Regions from separate parts of the Homo sapiens genome. Here region 2 is linked to region 1. Evidence: fine-mapped expression QTL. A gene starts in region 1. The other region holds a variant in brackets. All regions are shown on one strand. Distances are between the middles of the regions.

Region 1 (5,000 bases):
GGTGGGAAAATGACTGTTCTCATCTGATTCCTTTGATTTCTCTGTAAAGCTGAGAATGAGACAAAAGCACATGTTAGAGGTTTTAGGAAACTCGCTATGTTAAGTAATGATTATGGAGACAAGGAAACCAAATTTCCTAGAAAAATGTAGCACTGAAAATCTACTTGAGATTTGTATTCATGAATTTAAAATAAGGCCAGTTAGTCTGAAGTTTTCCCTAGCCCCGTTCTCCATTGCTCAGTGGCAGGCAGCAAATTACGTGGAAAGTTTTGTTTAATCAGGGTCAATGTTTTTTACGACAATGGGAGTTGGGCTGGGGAGTTGAGGATGCATAAAAGGGAATGATAAGAGTGAAGAGTAAGGAAATGAGGACATAGGATAAGACAGGCAAAAGATGGCAGAGTCAATGAACTGGGAAGAATTACTTGAGTTGAGGAATTAATACCTCAAAGGACTGTTAAGAGGATTAAACATACATAAACCACGTAGCACATTACCTAGAGCACATTAAGCATTCTATGAATAATAGTTGCTTTTATTACTTTGAAATTTCTCAGAAGGTAATGTCACACTAACCTCACATGGCTATTGTTTTTTTTTAATAATTATGGGCCAAGAATTATTCTAGAAACTGTGACTATCACAGTAAAATACAAAACCCTGGCTTCATGAAGCTCACAGTTTAAAGGGTTAATGAGAATAACATATGGGCAAGCATCTGTCACAGTGCCTTGCAAATACTAGGTGCTCAATAAATATAAATTATTACTCTCTTTGGTTCCAGCCTCTCCACTTTCTTCCATTTATTATGAGTACTATTAGAAGAATGATATTCTTTATTAATTATATATTCATTATATTTCTCTGCTTAAAAACCTACATTAGTTTCCTACTGCAATACCCAAACCAATAGTCCAGACATATTTGCTTGCACACTGCATTAATTTTTTTAAGTATTTATTTAAAAAATTATATGCACGTTCTATGTAGTACCAATATGATATACACATTATAAATCATACATTACTTAGAATAGTGTGTGGCATACAGTTTAAACTACATAAGTGTTAGCTATTATTACTATAGAAAGCAATTTTTAGGAGTTCTAATTTATATTTCCACAACTTATTAGGTCCTCTTGCACAACTCCCTTTGGAGACTACCGATCTAAACTCTGCTTGGCTTTCAAAGGTCTCCATTGTCTGATCCCATCTAACACATTCAACCTCCTTTTCCACTATCCCAGATATTCAGGTAGTCATTTCACTGCCTCTTGAATACCTCATGACTCCATTCTCACCCACTTGTCTTTGCCAGAGGACTTTCCAGATCATAACAGCCCTAAAGAGACCAGTGGGAGCACTACAATTCTCCACTGGTCTTCCAATCATCCCTCAGTACCTCAAATGATACTAATCTTTCCCTTTTATGATTTCCTGTGATACTTAATAGTCTTGCCACACTTAACTATATATAGTTGTCTTACACAGTTCTGTCCTATAGTGTGTGGATTATGTTACATACTAGACTTGCCTCTACAGAATTTACTCAAAAACTTACTTTACCAGACAATAACGCAGAGTGGTTAAGAACACAAGCTATGGTGTCAGTCAGAGGAAAGTAAGTTAAAAGAGGAAAATTAATAAAAATACCTAGAACTGGAGATTGCAGATAGCAGGTACTCAATAAATAGTGATTACCATTCACAATCTACATTACGTCATACAATTGTAATAGTTTAACAAGAACCAGCAAATGTCTTTGCAAAGACATTGTGACTACAAAACCATCCACTATAAGTGATGTGCACCACCACCTTCCCAGTGGTATGCAGGAGTTCTACCCAAGATGGAAAACAAAAAAAAAAGGATCCTCTAAACACTCCTAATTCTTGCCTCAGGCTGAACATCAAGCCTATCTGTGGTGCTTTTAAAAATTTAAGGTGCAAGGAGCTAATCTCACAAATTCTGACTCAATAGCTCTACACTCAGTCCTCATTTCTAATTTTTATAAAGCTTTACGAGTGATTCTGACATGAGCCAATTTTGAAAGCAAATGATATTCTGTAACGACTAAAATACACTAAGAAAAATACAACTTTGGGGGTTTGATTGGAATATGTTTGTGGAAGAGTAGAGGGTGAAAGGACAATGATGAAGTGTAACCGTATTTCTAATTTCCTTGCTTTTTAGTGAGTGGAAGGACAAATGTATGTTTTCAGTTTGAGGAGTGGGAGCAGATCCAATCAGAACAGAAGAGAAACTAAATAATGCTAACAAATTCTAACATAGCCTTCATTCTTCACTTTCCTTTCCACCAAGCTCCTGATTCTTCTCTCCTCAAACATCACTCTCTCCCCCAGACCCCAACGCACTTTGCCGAACACATTCTACATCCGTAGAGACGCTTTTGGGTAAAAGGATGCTTTTACAAATATTAGCTCATTTAATCTTATCAGAGACTCCCTGGTATTGTAATATTATCATTTCCATTGTGCTCATATGAATTGAGACCCATTAAGGGTTTGCACAAGGTCATAAAATCAATCTAAGAAAACCTCTCGCCACTAGCCTTTTTTCCCTCCCTTACACATTTCTCCCCCCGCCCCATACAAATATTTCTCATAACCCTAAACCCTTACAACCATATCAGAATTCTGATTCTCTCGATCCCTAACGTGTCCCCCGCATTCTCCTCTTCGCTTACAGCTGCTTAAGATCTTTTGTCCCCTCCCAAGGTGGTGCACAATTGAATATGTGAGCCGGGGAAGCGGAAAGCGAAAGGAGAAACCAGACTGAGGCAGCTCCAAACCTAGAGAAACCAGAGTGTGCCTAGGAAGTTGGCGTGACCGCTGCAGCACGGTGCCACTTCCAAAACCTTAAATCCCCGTCTCGGAATCCCGACCAGGGGCCGCCGTTCCCGGTAACACTTACGTGACATTGACAGGACCCGGACAACCCGGGATTGTGCGGCAGCCGCCATCTTTTCCCACAATCCCCCACGACAGCACTCCCGGCTGACTACGGCTGCTAAGCTGGGTCAAAACTTACCTTTCTCGCCTGTCTGCGCAAGCGCTAACCAAGAAACGACGGTTTCGGGTAGATTGTTGGTTAAGAAGAAAGCTGGGAAAGTGAAGGAGAGGGGGAAGAAAGGAAGTGAAAAGACTTTGGCTGTTGGAATCTCAGATCTGGAATAGGCTGTATAGGCTATTTATAATCTCTAATTGCCGAGGAACCTGAAGTTCAGAGTTAACCAGTGACTGACTCAGGACATGCAAAATGGCAAGACCCGAGGTAGAAGAGCTCACCTTTCCTGACTCTCAGTTTCCTGTTCCCTGAAAATGTAAGCTAAGCTGGCAGCCCTGGTGAGTCCGGAGGAAGAAGGAGGCGTAGCCCTCCGCGCTCAGGAGATCCAGGGCCCAGGAGAGAGAAAAGGGGGGACAAGAACGAGGGGAAAAGTGGAGAAGAGAAACCAAAATAGGGTGTGTCCCAAGTAAATAAATGTGCGTCGAGCCCGCCAAGCACATTCTCTCATAGGGACCCTTGCGCCTGCTGTTCGCGTTTCCTGGAATGCACACTCAGGTGTCTGCACCAGCTCAAGTCTCTGCTCAAAAGTGACCTCTTCGGATAAAACTTCTCTGACCATCCTATCCAAGGTGGTAATTATTCCACCAATTTTTGGTTTAAGTTTATATACCAAAGCACTTATCACCAACTAGCATATGAATCTAGGAGTTCTTAACCAGAAGTGTGATTCATGAGTGGGCTTCGGGAAATCTGTGAACTTCCTGAAATATTATGCAAATTTAGTGGCCATGTGTGCCATCTGAACATCTGTCTAAGGAGAAACTGCAGATGGCTCTCTCTAGCGCAATGGCTTGTAATTTTTTCTTTAACTGTGGTCACCTTTGAGAATCTGCATTGTTCTACAAAGAGCCATCTAGAAACTGAGGAAATTCCAGGTTAGACTAAGCGCTTGGATTTTAAAATACTTTATTCTGGTCAACCTCTCCAGATTGCTGGGTAGGAGATGGCAACCAGTGATCCTGTGAAACATACCTTAGGCTTATCAGAAAACCACCTAGTTTGGGGAGGGCGGGTTCTTTCTAGACTTGGTAATCCTTCCAGTGCTTTGTTTTTTCAGGAAAAGTATGTGTTTCTGGGATAGACAAAAAGGCCTGTGATGAGTAGGGATGTAGAAGTTGCTTATTACTAGGCTTGAAATCTTGGCTGTTTCCACTCTATCTTGCCCCTACTGTTTACTGAAGTGTCGCCTAACAAATTGAATTGGAAGAGAGAAAAAAACCTTGAATTTCATCGGAGAAGCTTAGTAGTAACGCTACACTGTCATATTTCTTGGCCTTATCCTATGTTCACTTAACACAATTTGCTAATACTTGATTTTGGGACCAATATGGATACTAACATACTTTCCTTGTTCGGATCAACAGATCCTGACTGTCATCAGCAACCTGCTTACTCCTGTATAACACTGCCAATTATATAATTTAAAATCTCTAAGTTAAACACTGCCTCATGTTCTCAGTTCTAGTTTCAAGGTTGCATGGTGTAATTAAAAGAACACTGACTTTTTTTTTTTTCAGAGATGGGGTCTTACTGTATTGCCCAGGCTTGTCTCAAATTCCTGGGCTCAAGACCTCCTCTCACCTTGGCCTCCAAAAGTGCTGGGATTACAGGCATGAGTCACTGTGCCCAACTGAAAGAACACCGATTTTTAACACCTAGAATACTAGATCCCATCCCCAGTTTTGTCATTCGTTAGCTGTGACCTGGACAAGTTTCTACACTTGTCTAACAGGGTAAATAAAACCTACCCTGGTACCTCAAAAGGTTATTATGAGAATCGGGTGGCGTAATGGATGCAAAGATGCTTTGTCACCCGTAAAGTGCTATATGTAGGTCCATGCAGTACTATTCAAATACCACTGAAGTATCAAAATCATAGAATGTTAGAGCTGGAAGAGATTTTAGGAGCTCAGC
Region 2 (5,000 bases), 26 kb after region 1:
GGTGCCCAGTAAGCATCAGAACTGCGCGCCAAAGGGAGGGTTTGAGTCTGGAGAACACGCACACTTACCCCAGATGCTTCACACTGAAGTGCGGGAATTAAAAAGACCATCCCTACAACCTTCTCTTCTCTCTCCTCTCTGCCTTCTCGCTCGCTTGCTCTCTCTCTCTCTCTCTCTCTCTCATTTTCTCTTCCTCAGTGCTTTTGATTGTCTCCTCTTGATTGAGAAAAGTGGACCAACTGCTGTTAATCATTAAGTAGCAAAGGGTGGCACAAGAGGCTAGAATTATTTAGAAAATTTCATCATCATAGGAATCAGAAGATAAGGAAAAACAGGCTTTCTCTGCTTAATTAAGTGGTATTTACATGGTATTAGCAACGCTTGCAACTGGGTCGCTATATTTATCTGATGACTGGGAAAACACACGATTACAGAGCATCCAGATTAGGCTATATCAAGCCTAAACAAGAAACTGTATGGTCTTTGACTTTGGTCTTAAAAAGACTACACGTGCTACTTAAAGTGTAGTCTGTGGACCTACAACATTGGCATCACCTGGGAGCTTTTTAGAAGTGCAGAATCTCACACTTCCCTCCAGACCTACTGAATCAGAATCTTCATCTTAGCAAAATACCCAGGTGAGTTGTGTGCACATTCAAGTTAGGCTAGAAGACAGTGTGAACTTCCAATATTAGATCTATTCCTAAGGGTCGTTGGCAAGCTCTGTCTCCACGCAGGGTTTCCAATCCGTGAAACAGACAACTATTTTACAGTATATAGCAATTAGTAGAGGTGGGGAGTGGGAGGCTATATGCTGAAGAAAATTTAAACTGATGAAAAAAATCTAAAAGTAAGCATAGCTTTCAGGTGTGTAATGTGTGAGAAAGCCTTTTGTAGCCATCTTTGAAATCAAACCCCTCATATATAACATACATAATACATTCTGGCTTTAGACTTTTTTTGTATTGGAATGTGTTGTTTTAGATTATTTTAAATTGAAACATGTATCTAAAATAGGACAATAGACTTGCAGTCCCCCACTTTTATATACACACACACACACACCTTTGTCTACTCTAAAGATAAAGCCAGTCATCTATTTTATTGACTCCCTCTAAGAGTAGAAGGAATGAGAAGCAGCATGTTCAAACTTCAACTAATAAATAGACGCACTGAATATTAGTATATTTTTAAGAACAGGGATGACATAGACACCAAAGAAACTACCTAAAAATGACTTTTTGAAAAGAGATTAATGTATGCAAATATTCTCATACTGATTCAGGTGATTGAACCTGCTGTCACTGGGATGTCTGTGAGCCCGATGTCTTTAAATACATTTGTATTTATTTTTGAATAAATAATATGTGTGCATAGTTCAAAATTCAAAAGTACAAAAGGATGCATGGTGAAAATTAAGGGTTGTTTTCTCATTTGTGTGCTCCATCCCATTGCCTTCCCTGGAGAAAAAAATTGTTTGGATCAATTTCTTATTTATCCTTCCAGCAATACACACACACACACACACACACACACACACACACACACACACACACACGTAAAGTCACAAATTATTATTTTTTATATATATATCCTCTTCTGCAACATATAGAGTTGCCACATTCTTTTTAATGGCTTTATATATTTTATAATATATGAAGCCATTTCATATATCATATATGTTTTATATATGTTTTATATATTTAACCCCTCCCTTATGTATGGATATTTCAGTTGCCACTATTCTGCACTGTAAGCAATGCTACACTGAATATCCTTGAATATACATAATTTTGCACAGATTCAAATGTATTCACATGTGCTATACACCTAGGAAAGGAACTTCAAGGTCACTGAGAATATTATTTGTGTAATTTGATACATGTTTCCAAATTGCCTTCCATAGAGCTTGTACCAATTAACACACCTATTAAAACAGTGTAAGAGGACTATTTCCTCACACTTTAACCAACAGTGCATGCTAAAATTTTTAATTTGCTAAGTTGCTTTACTTTTTGTCTTATTAGGAATAAGGGTGAGTATCTTTGCATATAAGACCATTTGAATTTCCTCTTCTGTGGATTAATTTGTCATAACTTCTGCCCATTTTTCTTTTTTTAACTTATTTTAGGTTCAGGGGTATATGTGCTTGTTTGTTATATAGGTAAACTCATGTCACACGGGTTTGTTGTACAGCTTATTTTGTCACCCAGGTACTAAGCCTAGTACTGACCCAATAGTTATTTTTTTCTGAGTGTCTTCTTCCTCCCACCCTTCACCCTCAAGTGTCTGTTGTTCCCTCTTTGTGTCCATGTGTTCTCATCATTTAACTCCCACTTCTGATAACACGCTGCATTTCATTTTCTGTTCCTGAGTTAATTTGCCA[A/G]TGGCAATGGCCTCCAACTGCATCCATGTTCCTGCAAAGGAAATGGCTGTGTTCTTTTTTATGACTGCATAATATTCCATGGTGTATATGTACCACATTTTCTTTATCCCATCTGCCATTGATGGGCACTTAGGTTATCTCCATGTCTTTGTTATTGTGAATAGTGTTGCAGTGAACATCCACGTGCATGTGTCTTTATGGTAAAACAATTTATATTCCTTTGGATATACACCCAGTAATGGGATTGCTGGGTTGAACAGTAGTTCTGTTTTTAGCTCTTTGAGGAATTGCCACACTGCTTTTGACAATGGTTGAGCTAATTTACACTCCCACCAACAGTGTATAAGTGTTGCCTTTTCTCCACATCCTTGCCATTACTTTTAATAATAGCCATTCTAACTGGTGTGAGATGGTATCTCATTATGGTTTGGATTTGCGTTTATCTAGTGACCAGTGATATTAAGCTTGTTTTTATATGCTTGTTGGCCACACGTATGTCTTCTTTTGCAAAGAGTCTGTTTGTGTCCTTTGCCCACTTTTTAATGGGGTTGTTTTTTTCTTGCAAATTTGTTTCAGTTCCTTATAGCTGAACATTAGACCTTTGTCAGATGCATAGTTTGCAAATATTTCCTTCCATTATGTAGGTTGTCTGTTTACTCTATTAATAGTTTCTATTGATGTGCAGAAGCTCTTAAATTTAATTAGATCCCATTTGTCAAGCTTTGCTCTTGTTGCAGTTGCTTTTGGTGTATTCATCATGAAATCTTTGCCGGTTCCTATGTCCAGAATGGTATTGTCTAGGTGTTCTTCTAGGGTTTTTACAGTTTTTAATCTTACATTTAACTCTTTAATCCATGTTGAGTTGATTTTTGTATATGGTGTAAGGAAGGGGTCCAGTTTCAATCTTCTGTATATGGCTAGCCAGTTATCCCAGCACCTATTGAATTAGGGAATCCTTCCCCATTGCTTGTTTTTGTCAGCTTTGTCAAAGATCAGATGGTTGTAGCTGTGTGGCCTTATTTTTGGGCTCTCTATTCTGTTCCATTGGTCTGTATGTCTGTTTTTGTACCAGTACCATGCTGTTTTGGTTACTGTGGTCCTGGAGTATAGTTTGAAGTTGAGTAATGTGATGCCTCTAGCTTTGTTCTTTTCACCTAGGAGTGCCTTGGCTGTTGGCAGGCTCTTTTTTGGTTCCATATGAATTTTAAAATAGTTTTTTCTAGTTCTATGAAGAATTTCATTGGTAGTTTAATAGGAATAGCATTGAACATTTAAGTTGCTTTGGGCAATATGACCATTTTAACAATATTGACTCTTTCTATCCATGAGAATGGAATATTTTTCCATTTGTTTGTGTCATTTCCGATTTCTTCGAGCAGTGTTTTGTAATTCTCATTGTAGAGATTTTCACCTCCCTAGTTAGCTGTATTCCTAGGTATTCTTTTTATGTTCTGCCCATTTTCTTATTGCATTGTAGGCCTTTTTCTTATTGATCTATAAGAGTTTTATATATTACAAGGAATCAACCTTTATGATATTAAATACAAATGTTTCCTTTGCCATTGGTCCTTTGATTGGTGTTTTGTTGTTGTTGTTGTTGTAGTTTGTTTCTGCCATACAAATGTCATCAAATATGAGACATTTTTCTTTTATTTTTGCTGGGTTTTATGTTATATTTTGGAAAACATTCTCCACTTTACGATATTAGCAAAACTTTCCCATGTTTTTTTCTAGTCCACTCATGCATTGCTTAGTCATGGGGATATGCTCTGAGAAGTGTGTCATTAAGCGATTTCCTCATTGTGTGAACATAATAGACGGTACTTACACAAACCTAGCTGGTATAGCCTACTACATATCTAGCTTATATTGTATAGCCTATTGCTCCTAGGCTACACACTTATATACAGCATGTTACTGTACTGAATACTGTAAGCAATTATAACACCACAGTATGTGTGGATCTAAACATATCTAAATATAGAAAAGGTACAGTAAAAATATGGTTTGAAAGATAAAAAATGGTACATCTGTATAGGTCACTTACCATGAATGGAGCTCACAGGACTAGAAGTTGCTCTGGATGAGTGAGTGACTGAGTGGTGAGTGAATGCGAAGGCCTAGGACATTACTGTTCACTACTGTAGACTTCATAAAAACTGTATATTTAGGCTACAATAAATATTTTAAAATATTTTTCTTTCTTCAATAATAAATTAGCAGCTTACTGTAACATTTTTATGTTACAAAGTTTTGATTTTTTTTAACTTTTTGGCTCTTTTGTAATAACAGCTTAAAACACGTTGTACAGTTATACAAAAATATTTTCTTTATATTCTTTTTTATAAGCTTTTTTCTATTTAATTTTTTTATTTTTTATTAAAAATGAAGATACAAACACACATATTGACCTAGGCCCACACAGGGTCAGGATCATCAATACCATTGCCTTCCACCTCTGCATGTTCTCCCATTAGAAGGTCTTCAGGGTAAGTAACACTCATGGAGCTATTATGTCCTATGATGACAATGCCTTTGTCCTGAAGGACCTGCCTGAGGCTGTTTTACAATTAATTTTTTTAATAAGTAGAAGGAGTAGACTAAAATAATACCA

The links. PIP is the estimated chance that this variant, and not a neighbour inherited with it, causes the effect.
Region 2: its variant is the best candidate, but not a certain one, in a credible set for the expression of AKAP3 in thyroid (GTEx, PIP 0.53).

What each region holds. Positions count from the first base shown.
Region 1 is chr12:4,647,109-4,652,108 of GRCh38, reverse strand. AKAP3 (A-kinase anchoring protein 3) reads left to right here and starts at 3,058. Exons shown (of 6, transcript NM_001278309.2): 1 at 3,058-3,364. NDUFA9 (NADH:ubiquinone oxidoreductase subunit A9) reads right to left here and starts at 2,995. Exons shown (of 11, transcript NM_005002.5): 1 at 2,934-2,995. The coding sequence starts at 2,982. RefSeq lists enhancers at 2,570-3,225, 3,094-3,303, 3,584-3,633.
Region 2 is chr12:4,620,875-4,625,874 of GRCh38, reverse strand. The region is part of intron 5 of AKAP3 (A-kinase anchoring protein 3); the gene reads left to right. Among named protein-coding and RNA genes, the nearest start is that of AKAP3, 26 kb to the left of the region's middle. The variant A/G (reference allele first, on the strand shown) is at 2,387.